Homo sapiens: one gene and its partners. The protein of the gene in region 1 purifies or fractionates together with the protein of each later gene. This does not show direct contact. Each region holds a gene or a part of one and is shown on either strand. Other genes may lie near its edges. The genes, in order: ZSCAN5A, ZMYM3, IPO8, CSNK2A2, MYH8, BCKDHA and DDX51.

Evidence for each region.
Region 2: the proteins of ZSCAN5A (region 1) and ZMYM3 purify together in Homo sapiens (co-immunoprecipitation; 2 studies listed by BioGRID and IntAct, with this or other methods). This does not show direct contact.
Region 3: the proteins of ZSCAN5A (region 1) and IPO8 purify together in Homo sapiens (affinity purification with mass spectrometry; 3 studies listed by BioGRID and IntAct, with this or other methods). This does not show direct contact.
Region 4: the proteins of ZSCAN5A (region 1) and CSNK2A2 purify together in Homo sapiens (affinity purification with mass spectrometry; 2 studies listed by BioGRID and IntAct, with this or other methods). This does not show direct contact.
Region 5: the proteins of ZSCAN5A (region 1) and MYH8 purify together in Homo sapiens (affinity purification with mass spectrometry; one large-scale study listed by BioGRID and IntAct). This does not show direct contact.
Region 6: the proteins of ZSCAN5A (region 1) and BCKDHA purify together in Homo sapiens (affinity purification with mass spectrometry; one large-scale study listed by BioGRID and IntAct). This does not show direct contact.
Region 7: the proteins of ZSCAN5A (region 1) and DDX51 purify together in Homo sapiens (co-immunoprecipitation; one large-scale study listed by IntAct). This does not show direct contact.

Annotation. Positions count from the first base shown.
Region 1 is NC_000019.10:56,220,840-56,224,339, reverse strand, and holds the end of ZSCAN5A (zinc finger and SCAN domain-containing protein 5A), read left to right. Parts: intron 1-505; coding exon 506-709; intron 710-1,598; coding exon 1,599-1,749; intron 1,750-2,013; coding exon 2,014-2,765; 3' UTR 2,766-3,037; downstream 3,038-3,500.
Region 2 is NC_000023.11:71,239,124-71,241,632, reverse strand, and holds the end of ZMYM3 (zinc finger MYM-type protein 3), read left to right. Parts: intron 1-288; coding exon 289-406; intron 407-524; coding exon 525-717; 3' UTR 718-2,009; downstream 2,010-2,509. UniProt on the Homo sapiens protein: Plays a role in the regulation of cell morphology and cytoskeletal organization.
Region 3 is NC_000012.12:30,633,370-30,636,869, forward strand, and holds part of IPO8 (importin-8), read right to left. Parts: intron 918-3,500; coding exon 714-917; intron 1-713. UniProt on the Homo sapiens protein: Involved in nuclear protein import, either by acting as autonomous nuclear transport receptor or as an adapter-like protein in association with the importin-beta subunit KPNB1.
Region 4 is NC_000016.10:58,191,607-58,195,106, reverse strand, and holds part of CSNK2A2 (casein kinase II subunit alpha'), read left to right. Parts: intron 1-3,500.
Region 5 is NC_000017.11:10,394,451-10,397,950, reverse strand, and holds part of MYH8 (myosin-8), read left to right. Parts: intron 1-964; coding exon 965-1,148; intron 1,149-1,232; coding exon 1,233-1,398; intron 1,399-1,496; coding exon 1,497-1,621; intron 1,622-2,509; coding exon 2,510-2,818; intron 2,819-3,498; coding exon 3,499-3,500. UniProt on the Homo sapiens protein: Muscle contraction.
Region 6 is NC_000019.10:41,421,818-41,425,502, reverse strand, and holds the end of BCKDHA (2-oxoisovalerate dehydrogenase subunit alpha, mitochondrial isoform 1 precursor), read right to left. Parts: intron 3,340-3,685; coding exon 3,133-3,339; intron 2,875-3,132; coding exon 2,733-2,874; intron 2,506-2,732; coding exon 2,334-2,505; intron 1,066-2,333; coding exon 895-1,065; 3' UTR 501-894; downstream 1-500. UniProt on the Homo sapiens protein: Together with BCKDHB forms the heterotetrameric E1 subunit of the mitochondrial branched-chain alpha-ketoacid dehydrogenase (BCKD) complex.
Region 7 is NC_000012.12:132,136,094-132,138,706, forward strand, and holds the end of DDX51 (ATP-dependent RNA helicase DDX51), read right to left. Parts: 3' UTR 501-2,613; downstream 1-500. UniProt on the Homo sapiens protein: ATP-binding RNA helicase involved in the biogenesis of 60S ribosomal subunits.

The DNA of each region.
Region 1 (3,500 bases):
TGTGTGAGGCCAACATGAAAGAAAGACATTGGTGAAATATTAGGCCTGATGGAATGTAGGGAAGGAGGCATTAGAGTGAACTGAAGGGGGGCCCAGGAGTCCCATCCTGAAGCAGGGAAAGTGGTTGGTATCAGATGCAGGGATCTGCCCCCAGGTCCCCAAATGAGCCCCTAAGTTCTAATACAAGGTGAGCTGCCATCGGCCAATTGAGTTGGATTCACCCAGAATATTTCTCCTTGTCTTCTCTTTGGTTTAGAGACTATTTCATCTAAAGGACCCATGTTTATGTACTTAACTAGAATATTCCAGGCGCAGGCAGGTGCTGGAGTCTAGAGAGGAAAAAATTCAGACAGGATTGCTGTGTCCACAGAGCTGACTCTCTATTGGGAAGGCAGATTTGAACATTAATTACAGTAAAGTGTGAGCATTATGGCAGGACCCAGGGAATATGAGAGCTACTTTCAGGTTCTCATGGTGAGTCTGATTGTCTTTTTTCTCTCTACAGTCTGTGGTCACCTTCCACGGAAAGGAATATATTGTGCAGGACTCAGATATCGAGATGGCTGAAGCCCCCTCCAGTGTCAGAGATGATCTGAAAGACGTGTCCAGCCAACGGGCCTCCTCGGTGAACCAGATGCGTCCAGGGGAAGGCCAGGCCCACCGAGAGCTGCAGATCCTGCCCAGGGTCCCTGCATTGTCCAGGAGGCAGGTGAGTGTGTGAGGCCTTGGTGTCTGGGCAGAGGTGGGAGAAGGAACAGGAGGAAATCGTGTGGCCGCTGGACTGATTGAGAGATTTGACACAGGACAAGATTAGAGCCATTCCCCATGGACATGATACATCCCCAAACATTCATTCCTGAGCCATCACAGAGAGGGAAGCCTCATCTACTTTTCTCTCCACCATGAGAGCTTTTAGCATTTAGGGTGGGGCATAAGAAATGATCTCAGTGAAATGAGGGAGGCAGTTTGCACAGATGAATGAAGATTCCTTCCCCGTAGCCAGTTTCCTCAAAGACATTTAATGTAATAATTCAGCAAGGAAACCATTTTCTACAGATTGTCAATTTCTTAATTTGAGGAGTGTTTCTCAACTGGGGTGATTCTGCCTTTCCGGACACATGGCCATGTCTGGAGATGCTTTTGTGTGTCATTGTAGGGGATGGTGGGGTGTTAATAGCATCTAGAGGGTGGAGGTGGGGTCTCTGCTCTGCACAGGAGCGCCCCCTCCAGCAGGGTGATGCAGCCCCAATGCCAGTGGTGCCACAGCTGAGGGGCCTCGACTAGAGTCATGCTCCTTCCAGTGTCAGGTGCAGGGAGACGTTGGCACGGCGGGGAGAAATATGCTCAGAGAACCAAACAGTGAAAACCACCAGGCACAGGAGCTGATTTGGAATATGGAGGGTGCAGATTAGGGACAGACACAGAAATGAGATGGTGATGTTTACGTGGGGTGATGGGGTGGTCCAGGGGAAGTCTGCACGTATTTCCACACCTGTGTCATTAGAAGAGTTGTTGCATCCAATCAGAAGGGGACAGATGTGTCCCTGCTTCCACCAGTTTGGACACAGCAGTCATTACTCTTGGTTTTTCCTCTTCAGGGAGAGGACTTTCTGCTACACAAGAGTATTGACGTAACAGGTGACCCAAAGTCTCTGAGACCCAAGCAGACCTTGGAGAAGGATCTGAAGGAAAACAGGGAAGAGAACCCAGGACTGACATCCCCAGAGCCTCAGCTTCCAAAGAGTCCCAGTGAGTATGAAGACTTGGATCCACAGGGGTTAGTCCCTCTCTTCTGGGGTGCGGGGCTGGGGGCCCAGCATTATCATCCCCTGGGGGAGTTGGCACTCAGCTGTCAAAGCCTCCCCATCCTCTACTTTCCAGAGACCTACAGTCCAATGTCTTAGGCTTGAGCTTGAGCGGAAGTTGTCAGCCAACATCAGTGTTTGGTTGCAATGAGTTTGGTGTATTGAAAATGCGCTTTATTAACTGTGTGTGTGGAATCCCTTCTTCCAGCAGATCTGGTGAGAGCAAAGGAGGGGAAGGACCCCCCAAAAATAGCCTCTGTGGAAAATGTGGATGCTGACACACCTTCTGCCTGCGTTGTGGAGAGAGAAGCTTCGACTCACAGCGGGAACAGAGGAGACGCTCTGAATCTGAGCAGTCCCAAAAGAAGCAAACCAGATGCCTCCTCCATTTCCCAAGAAGAGCCTCAAGGAGAAGCCACACCTGTGGGCAACAGAGAATCCCCGGGACAAGCTGGGATGAATTCAATTCATTCCCCAGGCCCTGCGAGCCCAGTCAGTCACCCGGATGGCCAAGAAGCCAAGGCACTGCCGCCCTTTGCATGTGACGTGTGCGAGAAGAGGTTTACGTGTAATTCCAAGCTAGTCATCCACAAGAGATCACACACAGGCGAGAGACTCTTTCAATGTAATCTCTGTGGGAAGCGCTTCATGCAGCTTATTAGCCTCCAATTTCACCAGCGAACCCACACTGGCGAGAGGCCCTACACGTGTGACGTCTGCCAGAAGCAGTTCACCCAGAAGTCCTACTTGAAGTGTCACAAGAGAAGCCACACAGGGGAGAAGCCCTTCGAATGTAAAGACTGCAAGAAAGTTTTCACCTACAGGGGGAGCCTGAAGGAGCACCAGCGCATCCACTCCGGAGAGAAACCCTACAAATGTTCCAAGTGTCCAAGAGCCTTCAGTCGGCTGAAATTGTTAAGACGCCACCAGAAAACACATCCAGAAGCTACTTCTCAGTGATTGCATAATCCGGTCTATGCCTTCTGCACCAAGAAGAAGTGAATGATATTTTTCATCAATGTTATCAGATGACATTTGACACATGCAAGGGCGTCTGACACACAGAGGGAGTGCCCTAGATATGAATTGCCAGGATGTTTGAGTAAATATGTGTCCTCCCCACTGAGCTTTGTTTTCTGTTTCATTATGTCCATTGTTTTCTTATAGGTTTATTTTGGTTTGTGTTGCTGTTCTTCCAATAAACGATCATCTTATTAGTTTTCAATATTGTATAACGGAAAACTGAGTTTCCTGATTGACATGGGGTTACCCACTGTTTTGCTGTAAAGTACAGTTGTCCAAGGAGGGTGGCCATATAAAATACATAATGCCTGATGAAATTTGAGTTTCAGATAAACAATTTTCTTTAGTATCAGCATGTTCTAAATTATTTATTTATCTGAAACTCAGCTTTTATTGGGTATCCTGTAGAGTTTTCGTTTTCTTTTTTCTTTCTTTCTTTTTTTTTTTTTTTGAGATGGCGTCTCCCTCTGTCACGCAGGCTGAGGTTCAGTGGCATAATCACCGCTCACTGCAGCCGCGACCTTCCAGGCTCAAGCAATCCTCCCATCTAAGCCTCCCGAGCAGCCGAGACTACAGGAGCACGCCACCAACTTGGCTAATTTTTGTGGTTTTTGTAGAGATGGAATTTTGATATGTTGCCCAGGCTGGTCTTGAACTCCGAAGTACAAGTGA
Region 2 (2,509 bases), on another chromosome or scaffold:
CAGGTCTTTTGAATAACTTCTGAGATCACCTCTTCAAGATAGCAACTTGGGGGAGATTTTAAAGAGAGTCTTTGGCAGTGGGAACTGGGGAGGGTTGCATAACAACAGCCCGACAGGATGTTGGGTTGGCGTGGGAGAGGGAGACTGACCTCTTCTTCCACCTCTCCATCTTGATGAGACTGTAATTTGTGTCGTGACGCCTTCTCCCTGTGCCCTGAACTGTGCTCTTGGATGTGGCTCATGGAGCCTGTGTTCTTAATGAGTCTGAATCATTTCCCTCCCCTATAGACACGGGTCCTGGAAAACGGAAGAGAGAAGATGAAGCCCCTATCTTAGAGCAGCGTGAGAACCGCATGAATCCCCTCCGCTGCCCTGTCAAGTTCTATGAATTCTATCTCTCAAAATGGTGAGTTGGTGGGTTGGCAGGAAAAGCGTTAGCATGGGGACCCGAGGGATCTACTTTGCCTTGGTACTGATCTTCTGTCCTGCCACCCCCACTCCCACTCCCACCCCCGATGTTGCAGTCCTGAAAGCCTCCGGACTCGCAACGATGTGTTCTACCTGCAACCTGAACGGTCCTGCATCGCCGAGTCACCTCTCTGGTATTCTGTGATCCCCATGGACCGCAGCATGTTGGAGAGCATGCTCAATCGCATCCTGGCTGTGCGCGAGATTTATGAGGAACTGGGTCGTCCTGGGGAGGAAGACCTGGACTGAGCTCGTGTGCCATCCATATCCATCTTTCACATCAATGTCTGTCCTGTGGCCATGTCCCTCAGGGTGACAGGCCCAGGAACCAATGCTACTCATTCTGAAGGGCCCTGACTGCTCCTTTCCGCTCACCCATTCCCTGCCTTCTCTAGGAACCCTGGCTTTTATCTTCTTCCGTACCACTTGACAACCATGGGGCCCTGGTCTTCTGTACTCAGGGGCTGGTCTCCCAGTGATGGGCAAAAGCCAGCTTGCCCGTTTTCTTTATGCTTCAGAGTAAACCCCTCCTTCTGGGTCCAGACTCTGGGTGGAGTGTTAATAGCTCTGGTGATCCTGTTGGCTTTGGGTTTCCTGACCCATCCCGCATAGGTAGAGCCTCTTGTTCCTAGGCATGACCTAGGGAAAAACCCAGCTGCCTTCTCTGCCCTGTGCCCACTCCCTTCTCTACTCTTCCCCAGCACCATGCCAAAAGGTCTTATCTGAAAGGTAAGAAATAAACAATGAAAGCGATGAGGGGACCATTTACATAAAACACAGAGCTTAGACACTCTTCCCCTCCTATGAAATAATTGGTTGTTGGCACCATCTCACCACCGCATATCCCTCACCCCCTCGGCAAGCACCAATCCTTGGTGCTGCCGTTTTTAAAATCTTCCAAATGCCTTTTTTTCCTCAGAGGCAGAGAATGACTAAGTACGGGGAGCAGACTCCTGTTGTGCAGACTCCTGTCCCCTTGGTTTCTGTGTTTGTCTCTCTGCCATCTTAGGTTGCCATGAGCCATGGTGTCAACATGCTTAGCCCCCTCTGTAACTGCCTCCCTTTAGTTCAATGGACAGACCTCCCAAGGCAAAAACTACCTTCTGACTTGGGTTGAGGCTGGGTTCCCCTCTATTGTTCCCCTATCATAAGAGCTAGGCCAAGCCTATGGGACCTTGAGTCATGCAGGATGGGATCTGTGGTCAAAGGACAGGCGAGGAGCTGTGGGCGCAGGGCCTGCCGCCACTGCCTACATCTTCTCTCTTCCCCATCTTGCATTGGAGGTCCCAGAAAACAATTAGCTTCTGGCAAAGGGGGTACCCACTTCTTTCCCTGTTGACTTTGCTGTTTCCCAGGCTCCTTTTTGTGTTTTTATAACTGTCACCAGTTAGCCACTGTTTAAATTGTATATATTGTTCTGAGGCGCCTGGCCTGTCCCTTCAGTGAGCCATGCCCACCCTTGTGTTGTAGTGAGAAGCTGTTGTCACGACTAACCTTCTGTCTCTGAAATTGTTTGTTTCAAATAAAGAGTTAAAATTGTCTTTTGTCTTTTCTGGGTGATGGATATAGAGGAGCAACACTGGATAACTTCAAATCTCTCCAAGTGTAAACAAGTCAGGTGTTTGAGAATCGTTCTTACTTTACTGTCTTACTTTGGATCTACTGGGAATGTGGTGTTTTTTTTGTTTTTTTTGTTTTTGTTTTTGTTTTTTTTTTATAACAAGTTTCCAAACACTTAAGGAAAAAAAAATACTCACTCACTAGCTATGTATTAAGGACCTATTATGTTTAAAGACCTAGATTACGTGCTTCAAAAAATACAAAAAGACTGGTTAGACCAGGATCCAATCCCCAGCAGGCTCCCAGGCTATAGGGGAGACCAAATAGTACACAATTAGTCATAATACAGGCAGAATAAAATGAATAGTGCTATGGGAGGACAGAGGAATAAATAACTCACTTCAGGTTTACAGGGAGGCTGGGTGCAGTGGCTTGCGTCTGTAATCCCAGTACTTTGGGAGGCCAAGGTGGGAGGATTCCT
Region 3 (3,500 bases), on another chromosome or scaffold:
ACCATAAAACAAATAATCTATATTAATGAGATTTAAAATAATTTATTTGATTAATAATTTTCTAAATATCCTCATTGGCTTGTTTTTATTCTGTAAATTTTCCATTTCCATTTTCTACTAGGTTACTGGTCTTATGTATCTGAGGATGGCCTCTGTACACTGTGTACATTATGCCTATTATGCATATGTGGCAAATATTTTCTCCCCCCGAATCATTTATGAGTCCTGTAACTGTAATTATACTGTTCTTTGTTGTATAAAATTGGCAAATTACTTACAAAGTAAAAAGTCACCCTCTTACGGCAGCAATTTCATTCTAGGGATTGTGAATAACTAGTAGGTTGTTAGCCACAATTTTTAAGCAATGTATGCCTGAAACACTTCATTCTTTGCTATAAAAATGCTTGCCCATTTATGCCTAAAGGATGAACAATATACACAGATACTCCACATATTACTTTTGCAAGGATAACATACAGGCTCACCCTGCTACTTCTCAATGATGAAAGCTGCTAGGATTGGGTGATAGGTGTTTCATTATTTTAATTTCTATCATTTCATGTATGTATGTTTGGGGATTTCTATCATAAGGAATAAACAAAAAAATTTTTAAAAGAACCTAGACCAATCTTGGGCAAATATCAAAACAGGAAGAAATGAAGAAAGAGTTTAGAAAAAAAAATATCAGAAGATGTGGGGAAGTAAAGACATACTTATCAGAGCTTGTGTAAAAAACTGATATTCATCCACACTATTGTCAAGGTCAAGTGGAGTACTGAACCCCTCAAGCGCGGTTTCTTCCAATACTTCTTCATCCCAGTCATCATCTTCCTCCTCCTCATCTTCACCTCTTCCATTATTTGACTGCATTGCTTGAGCAGTTACATTTGTCTCCTCTTCATCACTTGAAATCTCCTCTGTGAACCCATTAATTATTTAAAAGGAATCAAAACACATAAGGACAAAATATAAAACTTCACGACAAAAACCAAAGACTATAAAACTACACTCTGGAAAGGAAAAAATCTTCCACAAAATTTTAATAAAAATAAATCTTATCCCTGGTCTAAAGAGGAGAGTCAAAAAATAAAAATAAAAAATAAAATAAATAAACCTTATCTTTACTGTAGAGTTTGCTAAGTTGAGAATGTCCTTATCCTCCTCACTGAAAACAAGTTCCCTAAACCTGTTATCCAGATGAACATTACTACTGTTAGGCTATGCAAGTTCATTAATACAAGAATATTATTCAATTGCAGATTTCAAAATTACCTTTGTTTAAAAAAAAAGTGACTGTACGGTCAGTGCATGTGTTTTAAACAATGACTTCCTATTGAGAATTCAGTCCTCTTAATTAACTGAGTTGATTATAAAGTGCTTAGAAATGCCCAAATGAGATCATTTCTGCTAGTAGAAACAGTAAAAATACAGATCCAGCCATCCCACTTCAGGATATATATCTAAAATATTTTAAATCAATACGTAGAACAGATGTCAGCAGCCCTGTGTTCATCGCAGCATTATTCACAATAGCCAAGTTACAGAATCAACCTAAGTGTCCATCAACAACGGATGAATAAAGAAAATGTGGATTCTTTAAAATGAAACACTATTCAGCTTTTAAAAAGGTAATTCTGTCAATTCCAACAACACTGATGAACTTGGACATTATGATAAGTGAAATAAGCCAGGCACAGAAAGACACATACTGCCTGTTCTCACTTATACATAGAATCTAAAACAATCAAACTCATAGAAGTAGAGAATAGAATGGTGGTTACCAGAGGCTAGAGGTGGTGGGAATATGGGAATGTTGGTAAAAGGGTACAAAGTCTCAGGAAGAATTAGGTTTTTGTTTTGTTTTGTTTTGTTTTGGTATCTATTGTACAGCATGGTGAATACAGTTAATAGTATATGTACATTTCAAAATTGGCAAGATTGTAAATTTCAAATGTTCCCACCATTAAAAAGGGTATTTAAGGTGATGGATATATTAGTTTGATTTAATCATTCCGCATTATATTCACAAATCATAACATCACTTTGTACTCCATAAATATATAATTTGCTAATTTATAATAAAAAGAAATAGCAAAAATGTAAAGAAAAATAGCTACATGTCGCTTGAAAAGTTAAAAACTTGAACTACATTATGTATCACCATGGATTCTGTATCTATTTTCAGTGTCAATCTGTTCCTAGCAGTTAGATTGTAACTGAAATACTGGAACAGGAAGGCAGTAAATGCAGAACAAAAATCAAGATAAGAGAGAAATCCTGGAGTAAACCCAAACCAGGTAATATTAACCTAAAACTAGTTCTATTAGACACACCATATTGAAGCAGGTAGATTGAACTAGGTAGTTTTAGGAATAAGGCACTTAACCAGAGTTTGGACCAAATACACGAAAAAATGCATGGCAAATTATAACTATTAATACAAAAAGACTGAGAAATACCTCCACTAGTTAATCATTCCATACTTTAGTAGGAAGTACAAGAAAGTGTGGGATATTACCAGAAAATTTTCCCTCAAGCCATACAGTATAAGCCAATAAAGAGTTGCCAAAACAAGAAATTAGAGATCATAACATACTGGAAAAAATAAAAGAATTCTACAACTGTTGACACACAGTTAGCTAAAAACAAAACAAAACAAAACAAAAATCACACATGCAACACTTCTAATAAAGAAGCATTTCTTCAAAAGACCTACACAGATTTCAGAAAAACAAATTAGAAGCTGTATTTTGTGCTGTGGAGGGGAGAAAAAGGGTAGTTTATAATCTCTGGTATATGAACAAACTGGGATGATGCCAGTTAAAAGTGTTTTAAATCTATCCATGCTAAAATCACAGAATTTAGCATCAAAAATAGAGCTGTATGTTTACCAGGAAGAGTTCTGATTTTTCTCAGCTAACAAAGTATCTGTTTTTAACCAGGAGAGGAAAAAATCCACCTGGAATAGGAGAATGCTACTTCCTAGTCTCTAGCAAGTAGCTCCGCAATCTCATCATTAAACAAAACAAAGGTCTAATATTCAACTCTAACAATCTTATTCTGATTCTCAAGTATATCCACTTCATTTATGTACTTTACCTTAATTTATATTTAAATCACAAATATGGACGTCTCTCAAATGTAATTTTTGCTAATGAGTCACCTAAGAACCATTCCAGAAAAAGAAAAAAAAGACACTCTCTACTAATCTGTGGTACTAACACTTCAGCTCTTAATGTAATGATTCATTTAACTCATGGCTACTGCCTTGATGAGGCTGTTAGCACAAACAAGAAAGTTAGATACTAGATTGCTAACTTACAGTCAAGACCATTTGATTGTTATAAATGTGTTTCCTAATGTGTAACAGCATCTATTAGGCTCCATAAAAAAAACCGCTGAGTATATTAGGTGTCAGAAGGTGCATAAATCTAAATTTATATAGCATGATACAATTAATAGCAAGTCAACCAAGCCCAAAATATTTGTTATATGTGTAG
Region 4 (3,500 bases), on another chromosome or scaffold:
CTTCAAATCTAAGAAATAAGCAAAACGTAAATTGAAATTAGGAATATCCATATTCCACTGCTGTATATTCAGAAGAATGAATTGCTGACTCTAAAGCAATTCCAGAAAAATGTCTGAACTTTTGTGCTATGGCAGCATTTTTAGAATAAGTGTATGATTTTCTGTGGTGCTTTTTTTTTTTTAAAGGAACAGCATTCAGGTGTGTGTATAAATACCAGCATGTTCATTTAGGAGAGCATCGCATTGCTGCTTCATCATCCAAAGAGCTTTATAGGCTCTAGCTTTCCCCCTACTTTAAAGATTCTTGGCGTATGTTAGGAAACCCAGTATGTAAGCTGCTGCAGGTTATCTTTACAAATGGGAGACCTAGGCACAAAGAAACTTACCTAATGTCATTATGTTGAATGACCATTAGCCAGAACTCCTGTTTCCTATTTCTTCATATCTCTTACTGTTCATTTTAGCACTGGATTGTAGGATCTGAACGTTGAGCACAGAAACAGGTACCAGTGTCCTGGAATCAGACTTGGGAGGCCCCTAGTTAATGAAATGTTTCTTGTTTCTTCTTGATGTTGTTTGTTTTCACAGTGCAGCCTAAACCACTAGTGAAAATTAGACTCACTTCTTTATGTTTTTTAAAGCCCGGTGGCATTTCTATCCAGATTTTGTTCCTGTCTGAAGGATGGGGTAATATATCACTAATGGCATTATTGTGGTTTTGTTGTTTTGTGAATTAAAAGTATTACTTTTTAAAAAGAACAGGGTAACAAGGTCTTTAGCCAAAGTTGTGTTTCTTTATTCAAATAAGTTGAAGTTATGACTAATAGCTACTATTGTGGTGCTTGGTCATAGGAAATTAGGTCCTTAACAGACTACCAGCTCCTCATAACTTGGAAGAATCTAGAACAGCCTTCCTTTTTGTAAAAGCCTGCTGTATTTTAGCTGCAGGATTGTATTATGCACATAGTGACCAAGATAGAGGGTGGCTTTCTTGAGGACAAGTGGTCTTACTTTTGTAGTCAGTAACGTTTCGTATCAGTTCTTTGCAATATATGTGAGAATGGGTGGATGATGAGTGACTACAGAGGAATTTTATATCATTTAATTTGCATTAGTGGATTTCCAGGTATTGATCAAAAATGAGCTGCTAAAAAGTTTTAGGAATTTAGAAACTGGTGAGCAAAATTTTACTGTCTATCCCCAAGTGGTATTCTGTGGCTAAAATCTTAAAACTTTCCAATCAATAGAGAGGTTGTATCTTTTTTTGACAAATTGTTTTGAGGAGAAAAGAGAAAAAGGAGGAGGAAAATGGTAAGCGTTTATATGGCAGGGCAGAAAGCTACATTAGTGCCAAAAGTTTCATCTTTTGATTTTGAAAAATCAGTTCTTCATTTCCTTTGTAGTACCTCTTAGAAAAGTGTACACAGAAGTAAAAGTGGCCACCTTTGACAACTTTTAGCATTTTATGAATACTGCCTGTGTGTGTAGATTTCAGTACTTCTTGGGGTCCTTGGGATCTTTCAAATTAAACTGCTATTTCTTGAATAAAAGTTAAGAGCAACACTATTTTTAAAAAACAGCATTTTGAACCAGTGCAAAATGACTTGGAAATTCCCATATAAGGCTTCCTCTTAGAGGTCTTATTTTATAAACAGATTGACTATCCATTTTCCCCTAGATATTAATTATTTAGCTTTAAACAAAGGGTGGTGGTATTAAAATTTTGCTCTTTAAGCATGTTTAGCATACTTGCAGATATTTTTTAAGTTCTGTGTTGTCAGTAGGTAGTGTTAAAAGGATGGGCATTGGTTATACATCTTTGTTAGTAGCTTCATCGTGAGCTGGTGATCTTTATATTATATCAGAATGGTGCTTTCCTCTTTATTTCCTCTTTATTTCTCCTGTGGTAGGTTTTTTACCCTCCTAAATTTAGGCATGTGTATGAAGACATCTTCCTGAAACAACACATTAGTGGTATTTATCTAAGTTTTTGGTACATTCTGATTTTCACTAATGTCTCATGGTATAAAAGTAGTGCAAACAGTATCACTAAAGTATTGCTAACATTAAAAATAATGTTAAAAATTATATGTGAACTAGGCCGTTTCCAGCATTGTACTGGGGAGTCACAGATTAAGAGTGTAGTTAACCTGTGTCAAACAGAATCGCAGAATGCGGGCACTTAGAAACCTAGAAACCATTAGAACCCAGGCCCTTTTTACAAATCAACCAAGACCCAGAGAAAGGATGTATATGCTCAGCGTCATGTAGTCAGGGGGTGGAAGCACTCGGTGTAGGACCTTGTGTACCTGTCATGAAGTCTTGGTAGATGCGAGGAGCATAATTAGGACATTAGCTGGATGTTTGACTTTGTGATGTCCTGATCTGTACTGGAAGAATTGAGGAACACTCACCAGGAGTCAAATGAAGTTAATTCGTTTCTAATGATTTTTGGAGTTATTTTTCTCAAAGGAAGTGTTTGACTTTGGTAAGTTGCTAGTTGAAGTGTGGAATCCAAGAGTCCTCGAGGGCTATAGGGACCCAGGCAGGCGTTCTCTATGATTAGTATCCACAGCAGCATGTTTAATGCTTCAATGAAATGCTGCTTTATTCTCTTGAAGCCTCAGTAAATAGTGTTTTTATGGTTTTTTTTTTTTTTAACCCATAGAGTTCCTCCAAGTCTCAGCATGATCACTTGGCAGATTTCGGGATTAATAGTTTAATAGTTTTATCCCTTTAATATATGAGTTTATTTGAGAGCAAACCACATGTGAAAAGAATATCTTGATATAGTGTGCCCATTTTCATGTATAAAGCAGGGCTCCAGATAGTTTCTAGAGTTTAATTTCAGGATCTACCATCTCATCATCAGGGTGGTGTAGTGTAGGAAGTGCTGTAAATGAGAGGGCAGAAGGCTTGAGTTCCAGAACTAGTTTCTTCATTGATACCCACTTGACTGTTTTCTCATCTATGAAATAAGCATACATTTCCTGCTTAAGTCACAGGATTGTTAGGAAAGTCAGATAAACTATAGATAGATGGGTAGAGAGATTGATTGTCATGTTTTAGTAATCTACAAAATGCTTTTCTTTCCTGAGAGAGTATGGCCTAGGAAGTGGTCTGCCTGGTTTCAGGTGTTAGCTCCAACTGTAGACGCTCTGTGACGTCAAACAGTTACTTAAGTTCTCTGTGCCTTGGTGTCCTTCCTCAAGTAAAACTGTTAATAGTGCTCATCTAAGACGGTTAAATGTGCTTAAAACAGTGCCTGGCCTGAGAGATCAATAAAGTATAGTAGTAATAACAATATTACATTTGGGTCATGCGAGTGATGTTAGAGGCAGAACCAATAGTAGAAAGGGTTGTAGTGTTCTCCTAATGAGATTCAAAGGGTCTGCTCTATGCCTTGCCTTTAAAAAAAAATTGTGTTAAAATACATGTAACATAGGCTAGGCGCGGTGCCTCACGCCTGTAATCCCAGCCCTTTGGTAGGCCGAGGTGGG
Region 5 (3,500 bases), on another chromosome or scaffold:
GTGTACTTGGCACACAACTGAAAATGAACTGAGAATGTAGAGAATTCAGGAGGGAAAAAAAACCTGCCTTTGTTTAAACTGCACGAATTGTCCTGATTTATGTATCAGTTTCTTTCCCAGGAGAGATTGTCCAACTATAATGATTAGAAGAAACTGGCTATTCTCTAGGAAAAAAACACATAAAATGGAATGAAAAGTCTGAGAAAGCAAATGAATATGCTCAGTATATTTCTGGCCAGTAAAATATCTAGTTAACCTCAAATCCATATTGGAGTGAGAATGGATATATAAGTCAAACAACAAGATTGTCCTGGCTAATAATTTTCCACAGTCATACTCAATCAGAAGTCTTGAAAATCCTGAGTTACTTAGGTAGTAAGGCGCATACAATGGCAGCACTAACAGCAGCCTCTTAGAATTCTATAATATTCCCAGGACTTGTTTCCAACTCTTCACCACTTTGGATCTTTCCATACAGTTTACCAATCTAGAAAGCAGTTCTGGCTGCCACCGTTTTGAAAATCATATGCCATTTGCCAGTATAGAAACAGGACCGTGGCCAGGCACAGTGGCTCACACCTGTAATCCCAGCACTTTGGGAGGCCAAGGCGGGTGGATCACCTGAGGTCAGGAGTTCAAGACCAGCTTGGCCAACATATGGTGAAACCCTGTCTCTATTTAAAAAAAAATATACATATATACAAAAATTAGCTGGGCATGGTGGTGCACATCTGTAATCCCAGCTACTTGGGAAACTGAGGCAGGAGAATCGCTTGAACCCGGGAGGTCGCAGTGACCGAGATTGCACCACTGCACTCCAGCATGGGCGACAGAGCGAGACTCCGTCTCTCAAAAAAAGAAACAAAAGAAAAGAAAAGAAATAGGACTGTGAAAAGGGACCAAGGAGGTTATCACTTTGCTTCTGGTCTTGGCCATTCTCCTGACTGCCTGGCTAACTTTTCAGGAAAAAGTTGGCCCAGCGCCTGCAAGAAGCTGAGGAACATGTAGAAGCTGTGAACGCCAAATGTGCTTCCCTTGAGAAGACGAAGCAGCGGCTCCAGAATGAAGTTGAAGACCTCATGCTTGATGTGGAAAGGTCTAATGCAGCCTGTGCAGCCCTTGATAAGAAGCAAAGGAACTTTGACAAGGTGGCCCAGACTGCTTAAACTTTAAGAGTGTTTTACTCGGTCTTCCTTTCTCCTTGGATCAACTCATGATTTATTGCTTTTCAGGTCCTATCAGAATGGAAGCAGAAGTATGAGGAAACTCAGGCTGAACTTGAGGCCTCCCAGAAGGAGTCACGTTCTCTTAGCACTGAGCTGTTCAAGGTGAAGAATGTCTATGAGGAATCCCTGGATCAACTCGAAACGCTAAGAAGAGAAAATAAGAACTTGCAACGTGAGTCCTCACAGTCCTCCCTACTCCATATATCCCTGGGAGGACCTTTCCATGTTGCCATCTTTCTGACCATTTCTCTCCTGTCTGTTCAACCACAGAGGAGATTTCTGACCTCACTGAGCAGATTGCAGAGGGAGGAAAGCAAATTCATGAATTGGAGAAAATAAAGAAGCAAGTAGAACAAGAGAAATGTGAAATTCAGGCTGCTTTAGAGGAAGCAGAGGTACATATTACCTTGTATTATGTTATGGAAAAACAAAGACAAACATCAGTTAAAAAAAAGTGGGGCTAGTGATAATTTAAACTCACAGGATCTTTATGAAGGACAACTTGGCAATAGTTATCAAAATCCTTAAAAATGTAAATACTCTGACCTATCAATTCTATTTCTAAGATTTTATCACCCAAAAGATGTCAAATGGAGTAAAGCTTTAAGGCAAAGATGTGCAATCTAAGAACAAAAGTAAGCAAATCACAGAACAGTCATGTGATGAAATTTTATATAGCCATGAAATATGATTATTTTGGAAAAATATTTTACGGTAGACAGTAATTTTAAAGACACAAATTTGCATATACAATATAATTTTGATTATGTAAAAATATATAGAAGTAGGAAAAAAGACTAGAAAAAATACACCATATTAAAATGTTTTTCTCTTTACTGGGGGAACAACAGCTAGGTTTTCTTTTGGTTTTATGTATTGCCTCCACATTATACAATGAACATTTATTATGTAATCGGAAAAAAAATTAACATTTTAAAACTGATAGTTTCTAGGTCAGGGGCTAGTATATCACACAAGAACATTTTAATTTCTAAAACAGATTGAGAATTTATATTTACTATACATGAATTTAATTATATAATTTTATTAGTATTAATATGAACAATATTTGTATAGCACAATGCACCTTTATTGCAGAGCTGCCCTATATAATCTGTCACTAAATAAACAAAATAATGATTTACCTAGAAGATTCCCAGAACTACTGTATTATACTTTGTAAAATTAGACAAACTGATATTGACAAGAGTTTGGCTCACGAGGGAATATACTCCAAATACTCAGGTTCTTCTCCATTATTAATTGATCACTGTTTTGTTAAGGCATCTCTTGAACATGAAGAAGGAAAGATTCTGCGTATCCAGCTTGAGTTAAACCAAGTCAAGTCTGAAGTTGATAGAAAAATCGCAGAAAAGGATGAGGAAATTGACCAGCTGAAGAGAAACCACACTAGAGTCGTGGAGACAATGCAGAGCACGCTGGATGCAGAGATTAGAAGCAGAAATGATGCTCTGAGAGTCAAGAAGAAAATGGAAGGAGATCTGAATGAAATGGAAATCCAGCTGAACCATGCCAATCGCTTAGCTGCAGAGAGTTTAAGGAACTACAGGAACACCCAAGGAATCCTGAAGGTAAACGGGTCCACATTCGCCTCCCAGATGAAGCAGGGAAAGTACCTGTCTTCCATTTCCCAAACACCTTGTTAAACGATCCTTTTTTTCTCTTAACAAATTATACAGCTGACCGCACAAAGGTAACTGAATTAAATACACATAGAACATATTATTTTTAAGAAAATGTTATGTAGAAGAACAAACAGATGCCTAGGCATTACAGTATGATATGAAAGAAAGTGAACAGACTTGGGCACCAGACAGGCCTGAGGTTGAGTCTTAGTTTTGTCATTTACTAGCTGCCTGATTTTAAGCAAATTACTTAACCTCTCAGAACCTCTGTTCCTTCTTCAAAATAAGAATGAAACTACCCACCTCACTGAGTTACTGTGAAGATCAAATGAAATAACAGATGTCAAGTCCTGATAGAGCATATGGAAACTGCTCCACAAATGACAGACATTAGTGACTCACACATGACACAGTAACCAGTTAATGGTAGAAATAGAACAAGAATCTATGTCTCCTGATAATTCTCTCTCACCCTAAGCAAATGACCTAACCATAATCAGATGCATTCAAATGACAGGCATATGTCATCTTCTGTTCCTGTCACCAGTACAATCTCCCAGTTCATCTCCTGGGATCTTCAAATCCTCTTCAGAACACTTAAGGCCTTTCTGTTTTTCACTTATTAGGA
Region 6 (3,685 bases), about 15 Mb from region 1:
GATGGGAGGGAGGAGGGCCCAGAAGCTGGACAACTTAAGCCACTCCTTGGCCTCCCCCAGCCAGGGGCCTGGGCAGGAAAGATGGGGTGGTGGACTGTTTTTGCCTACTTTTTGTTTTTGAAAAACATGCACTCCCCACTCTGAGGCCTGGGGTTGTTTTTGCATCTGTGGGGCCCTGGAGTGGTGGGGAGCAGGGCTTGGCCACACCCTGACCTTCATCCTGGACGCTCCCCTGCACCCCTGCTGGGCAGGGCTAGCTCCACTGGGCTCCCCATCACTCTGCTGGACAGCAGGCTTCTCCCATTCTGTGAGAGAGCAGGAGACCATCTCTGGAGGACCCCCCCACCCCCATCCTGTCTGCTGAAGTTAACCTTCCAGCTTGCGCAAGCTTCCGGGGGAAGTAGGTATCTCAAGAGCCTTGACCTTATTTATCTAAGGTGGAGAAGCTGGGGGTGGCCTCAAATCACCCCCAAACTCCAGGAAACAAAGACCAGAGGTGGTAGAGAGCCAGGCGCAGAGATGCAGTTTATTCGTGACCTCTGCTGGCCACTCGCACCTGCGCAAGTTCCACAGGCTGACCTGCCATGTCCACCCCATGCCCAGAGGGGCTTCTAGTCCTGAATGTGCCCTCACCCAGCCCCTGGGAGAAGGCACTGTAACAACAGGTGAAGAGGGGGCTGACGGAGCCTCAGCAACTGCTGCAGATGCTGTCCCCTGACAATGTAACAGCCGGGAGGAGCAGGGGTGAAGAGTGGCAGCCGCCCTGGCCGCTGAGTATTTTAGAGGGAGCTGACTGGGGAAGACAGTGGTGTGCTGTCAGGTCCCCCTGCTCCCCTTAGAGTGGGGCTACCTCTCGGGGTAGCTGAGGATGGGTGGGGGTGGGCTGAGCAGGTCTCACTTATCGAAGTGATCCAGTGGGTAGTGCTCCCCGTAGGTCTGCAGGTGGCGGGCCAGAGACTCCTGCTGCTTGCGGAGCTGGGCGGGCATCTCCTGATACACGTCTGAGAAGAGTAGGTTGGGGTTGGGTTTGGGCTTCCGCTCGGCCTGCTCAAAGGCCTCCATCACCTGTGGGGACATGGGGCAGTGGGCAGGCTAGCCGGCCTCCCATGCAGGACCCTGCTTCCTCCTGCGGGGCCTTGGCAAGGAATTAACCACTCCAAGCCTTTGTGTTCCCACCTCGACAATGGAAATGATTATCCTAGCAGAAGTGTAATGAAAACCCTCAAATCCCAGCAGGGATCAGGTGCTATCCAAGTGTGTGGAATCATTTAAGGCTTTCAGCAGCCCTAAGAGGTAGACAGCTAAGCAATGAGGAAACTGAGGCACAGAGAAGGGCAGGGACAGGACACACGGTGCTGCCCTATGCCGGGTGCTGCCCTCACCACTGGGCTGCACGGGCCCTGGGTCCTAATGACCGGGCCAGGGAGGGTGGCACACTGACTCTGGGCAGGGCATGTACACTCCACCACGGTTTGCCACCTAATCCTCAAACCAGCTTTTTTTTTTTTTTAAGAGATAGTCTTGCTCTGTTGCCCAGGCTGGAGTGCAGTGGCGCCATCTCCAATCACTGCAAGTTCCACCTCCCGGGTTCAAGCGATTCTTCTGCCTCACCTTCCTGAGTAGCTGGGACTACAGGCACGCACCACCACGCCTGGCTAATTTTTTTTTTTGAGATGGAGTCTTGCTCTCGTTGCCCAGGCTGGAGTGCAATGGTACGATCTCAGCTCACTGCAACCTCTACCTCCCAGGTTCAAGCAATTCTCCTGCCTCGGCCTCCCAAGTAGCTGGGATTACAGGCACCCGGCACCATGCCCGGCTAATTTTTGTATTTTTATTAGAGACGAGGTTTCACCATGTTGGCCAGGCTGGTCTCAAACTCCCGACCTCAGGTGATCTGTCCGCCTTGGCCTCCCAAAGTGCTGGGATTACAGGCGTGAGCCACTGCGCCCAGCCCTAATTTTTGTATTTTTAGTAGAGACAGGGCTTGACCATGTTTGGCCAGGCTGTTCTCAAGCTCCTGACCTCAAGTGATCTGCCACCTCGGCCTCCCAAAGTGCTGGGATTACAGGTGTGAGCCACCATGCCCAGTCTCAAACCAGTTTCTGAAATGGGCACCACCAGCATCCCCTTTCAAAGACAAGGAAGTGGAGGGCAACATGCCAAGGACACAGAGCCAGGACACACATGGCCCCAGCAGCCTGGCTCCACAGGCCACATCTGAGACATCACTGGGGTTATCCCTGAGCCTCCCAGTTCGGTGTTCCACAAATCCTTCCCAAGCTCTGCAGGCCGCAGCAGCCCCCAGCACACCCTCCCGGGCGGGGCACCCTCACCTTCCTGCGGGACTGCTTCCTCCAGGCCTTCTCCTGCTCCTCATCCCACCAGCCTTGGCTCAGCAGATAGTGCCGCAGCCGGGAGATGGGGTGGTCCTGTTTATCCCAGTAATTGACCTCATCCACCGAGCGGTACGCTGAACTGTCGTCACTGGTGCTGTGGTGCCCGATCCTGCACAGGGGCAAGGGGCCCCAGGTCAGTGTGGGCTCCCTGGAGTGGGGGTCAGGAGGGAGGATGGGGGATGAACTAGGGAAGGAGGAGTGGAAACGGAATAAAGGCAAGGGGGAGATGCAACATCAGGTGATAAGGCCATGTTTTGGAGACAGTGATCGATATGAGGAAGATGCTACGGTGGCTGTCAGTGCTGTGGGGGTGCTGACGGGGGGAGCGGCAGGCACCTGTAGGTCATGGCCTCGATGAGGAAGGGCTGGTTCTCTGCCACAGCCCGCCGTCGGGCCTCCTTTGTGGCGTTGTATACGGCAAACACATCATTACCATCCACGCGGATTGACATGATGCCATACCCGGGGCCTCGTGCTGCTGTGGGGACACAGAGAAGGCAGGTCAGGCCAGGGCTGAGATAAGGAACATGCACGAGGCCAAGGGGACGAGCAGGGAGAGGACAGAGAGCAAGGCTGAGTGCTCAGGACCTCAACTCCTGTGGCTGACCAAGTGCCAGACGCCACAGGACACAGGACGAGAACCAGGAAGGAGGGTAGGGGTGGCAGGAAGGTGGCAGGATTGGGGAGGGAAGGAGATGATCCCAGCGGGGTGGGGAGCAGCCAGCAGAGCCCATACCAATGCCATCGCCGCGATACTGCTCAGAGGTGGGCGTGGAGATGGCGTAGCCATTGTTCCGGCAGAAGAAGATGATGGGGCACTCAAGTGTGGCAGCGAAGTTGAAGCCGGCATGGGCGTCCCCCTCACTGGCTGCCCCCTCGCCGAAGTAACAGATGACGACCCTGTTGGCATTGGCCCGCTTGGCTGCGTACGCCGCCCCCACCGCTGCAGGGGATGAGAGGGTGGTGAGCAGGGGCGGAGACTCACATGCACTCACACTCATTCACACTCACATGACCCACGGCTCAAGCGTGGCTCAGGCCAGCAGTCACCAGGCTTCAAGGGGAAAGGAAACACCTCAGCTCCTGATGCCCCCCAGCATCTGCCCACCCAGGTCTCCTCTTGCTCAGCTGAAAGCAACTCCACCCTTCCAACTGCTCAGGCTGAAGAGTCCAGTATCATCTCCAAGCCAAACTTCCCGCCATTCTCCACATCTACTCCACCTTCAGAACCTAACCCCTCTTACCTCCTCCTCTGCACCACCCTGGTCAAGCCCAAGTTACTGAGCAGC
Region 7 (2,613 bases), on another chromosome or scaffold:
CCGAGTGTGCCCACGGTGCCCGCTCCTCCCACCTCCCCGAGTGTGCCCACGGTGCCCGCTCCTCCCACCTCCCCGAGTGTGCCCACGGTGCCCGCTCCTCCCACCTCCCGAGTGTGCCCCGGTGCCCGCTCCTCCCACCTCCCGAGTGTGCCCACGGTGCCCGCTCCTCCCACCTCCCCGAGTGTGCCCACGGTGCCCGCTACCTCCCACCTCCCGAGTGTGCCCACGGTGCCCGCTCCTCCCACCTCCCGAGTGTGCCCACGGTGCCCGCTCCTCCCACCTCCCCGAGTGTGCCCACGGTGCCCGCTCCTCCCACCTCCCGAGTGTGTGGCCAGGCCCACATCTTATGTCTGCGAACCCAGCAGCACTGAGCCACTATCAATCCCCGATAAATGGCAATCATCGTGAAGCAGCCTTGTGGTCTGGGGTAAATACCAAGGTTCTTGGTCTCATGGCCAAGGAGATCGAGGTCGCAGACAGACACACACACACACAGTGAGTTTGGAGCAGAAGTTTAATAAGCAAAAAGGAAGAAGAGCTCTCCGTTGCAGAGGGGGCCTGAGCGGGTTGCTAAGTTGTAGTAAAGATGTCAAGGTTTCTTTTTTTTCTGTCGCCAGGCTGCAGTGCAGTGGGCTGATCTTGGCCCACTGCAACCTCCACCTCCCGGGCAAGTGATTCTCCTGCCTCAGCCTCTTGAGTAGTTGGGACTCCAGGCACACGCCACCACGCTCAGCTAAGTTTTGTATTTTTAGTAGAGATGGGGTTTCACCATGTTGGCCAGGATGGTCTCGATCTCCTGACCTCAGGTGATGCGCCTGCCTCAGCCTCCCAAAGTGCTGGGATTACAGGTGTGAGCCACCGTGCCCGGCCTGTCAAGGTTTTTACAAATGGGCTAGTGACGAGGGGTTAGAGGAGGGATGTCTTGTCCTCCCAGGGCCCAGGGTTTTAGCTGGGACAAGGTGTGCTATTTGTATAGAGAGTTTCTGTCAGACTCAGTCTGTGCTGCTCTGTGACACTTTTCTGCGAGGGTCTCTGGGTCTGCTCCCAGACATCTTCTTGGGGTTACAGGCACCCCTCAGTCTGCTTTTAGCTTCCCTTAGTGCACCTAAGGGGACGGGAATGTGCTTATTAGGGTCCACTGTTTTACTGGGGCCCATTGTGGAAGTGTGAAGTTTGGTGATCACCCAGGAGACACCCCCCGCACTCCTGTGCCCGAGCTGTCTCATCTGTGATTCACAGTCTGCTCTTTCTGGCTGCTTGTCGTGAGAAGTGATTTTGAACCCCGAGGTTAGAAAGGGAGCTATTTTTGAGCTGCTTTTTGTTAAAAGGCAAATTTTCTGCTGGGGACTGGCTTTACCCCGTCTACCTAAATCATTTCTTTCTGCCTCCTGTAACAGTCGCCTTTTGTGTTCTGCTGGCATTTGTTTGAACACAGTCCACAGGTTCAGTGGTTGCATCTCTAATCAGCTGCCAGTCCCCATCCCAGACATTCTTTGCATCTAAGCTGAGGTCTGAACTGAGTGGGGTGGGCTGGTGTTTCCATCCTCACAACTCCAGTGAGCCGGGTGTGGCCGTGGCCTGCGTCTCCCTGGCGGTTAGTGATGTTGGCATCATCCACCTTTTTCAAACAAAGCACTGGACTGAGAGAATTCACACACTGTATCCACCCAGTCCATGGTTTTTAGTAAAAGGTTTATAGAGGTGAGCAGCCATCACCACACACAACCTAAGAACATTTTCATCATCCCCAAAACAAACCCACACACTGGCCACTGTGTCCCCAGCCCCAACCCCCACCAACTCCCGGCCCCGGCACCCTTCAATCTCTGGCTGTGCCTGGGACACTCCCTATAGCCGGAGCCTTCCTTCAGTTAGCGTCAGGTTCCGGGTTCATCCACGGGGTGCCTATGCTGGTGCCTCACTCCTTTTTCTCTCCTGGTGTGGATTTCCCACGTTTTATTCTCCATTCATCAGCTGACGGACATGTGGTTTCTAGTTTTTGGCTACTGTGAACAGTGCTGCTGAGAGATTTGTGTACGTTTCTGTGTGGATGTAGGTTTCATTGATCTGGGGTGTACAAGGTGCATAGGAGAGGAAGTGCTGGGTCATGAGTGACTCTGTGTTTAACGCCCCAAGGCTTTGCCCAGCTGTCTCCACGTGACCTTCCCACCAGCAATATGTGAGGTGTCCACTGAACAGTCACAAGGTTCACAAATCTGGGGAGGAGAGCTTTTTTTTTGACGGAGTCTCACTCTGTTGCCCAGGCTGGAGTGCAGTGGCGCAGTCTCCGCTCACTGCAAGCTCCGCCTCCCGGGTTCACGCCATTCTCCTGCCTCAGCCTCCCGAGTAGCTGGGACTATAGGTGCCCGCCACCACGCCCGGCTAGTTGTTTTTTTTTTTTTTTTGTATTTTTAGTAGAGACGGGGTTTCACCATGTTAGCAATGATGGTCTCTATCTCCTGACCTTGTGATCCACCTGCCTCGGCCTCCCAAAGTGCTGGGATTACAGGCATTTGCCACCGCGCCCGGCAATTTTTTTTTTTGAGACGGAGTTTTGCTCTTGTTGCCCAGGCTGGAGTGCAGTGGCGCAATCTCAGCTCACTGCAACCTCCA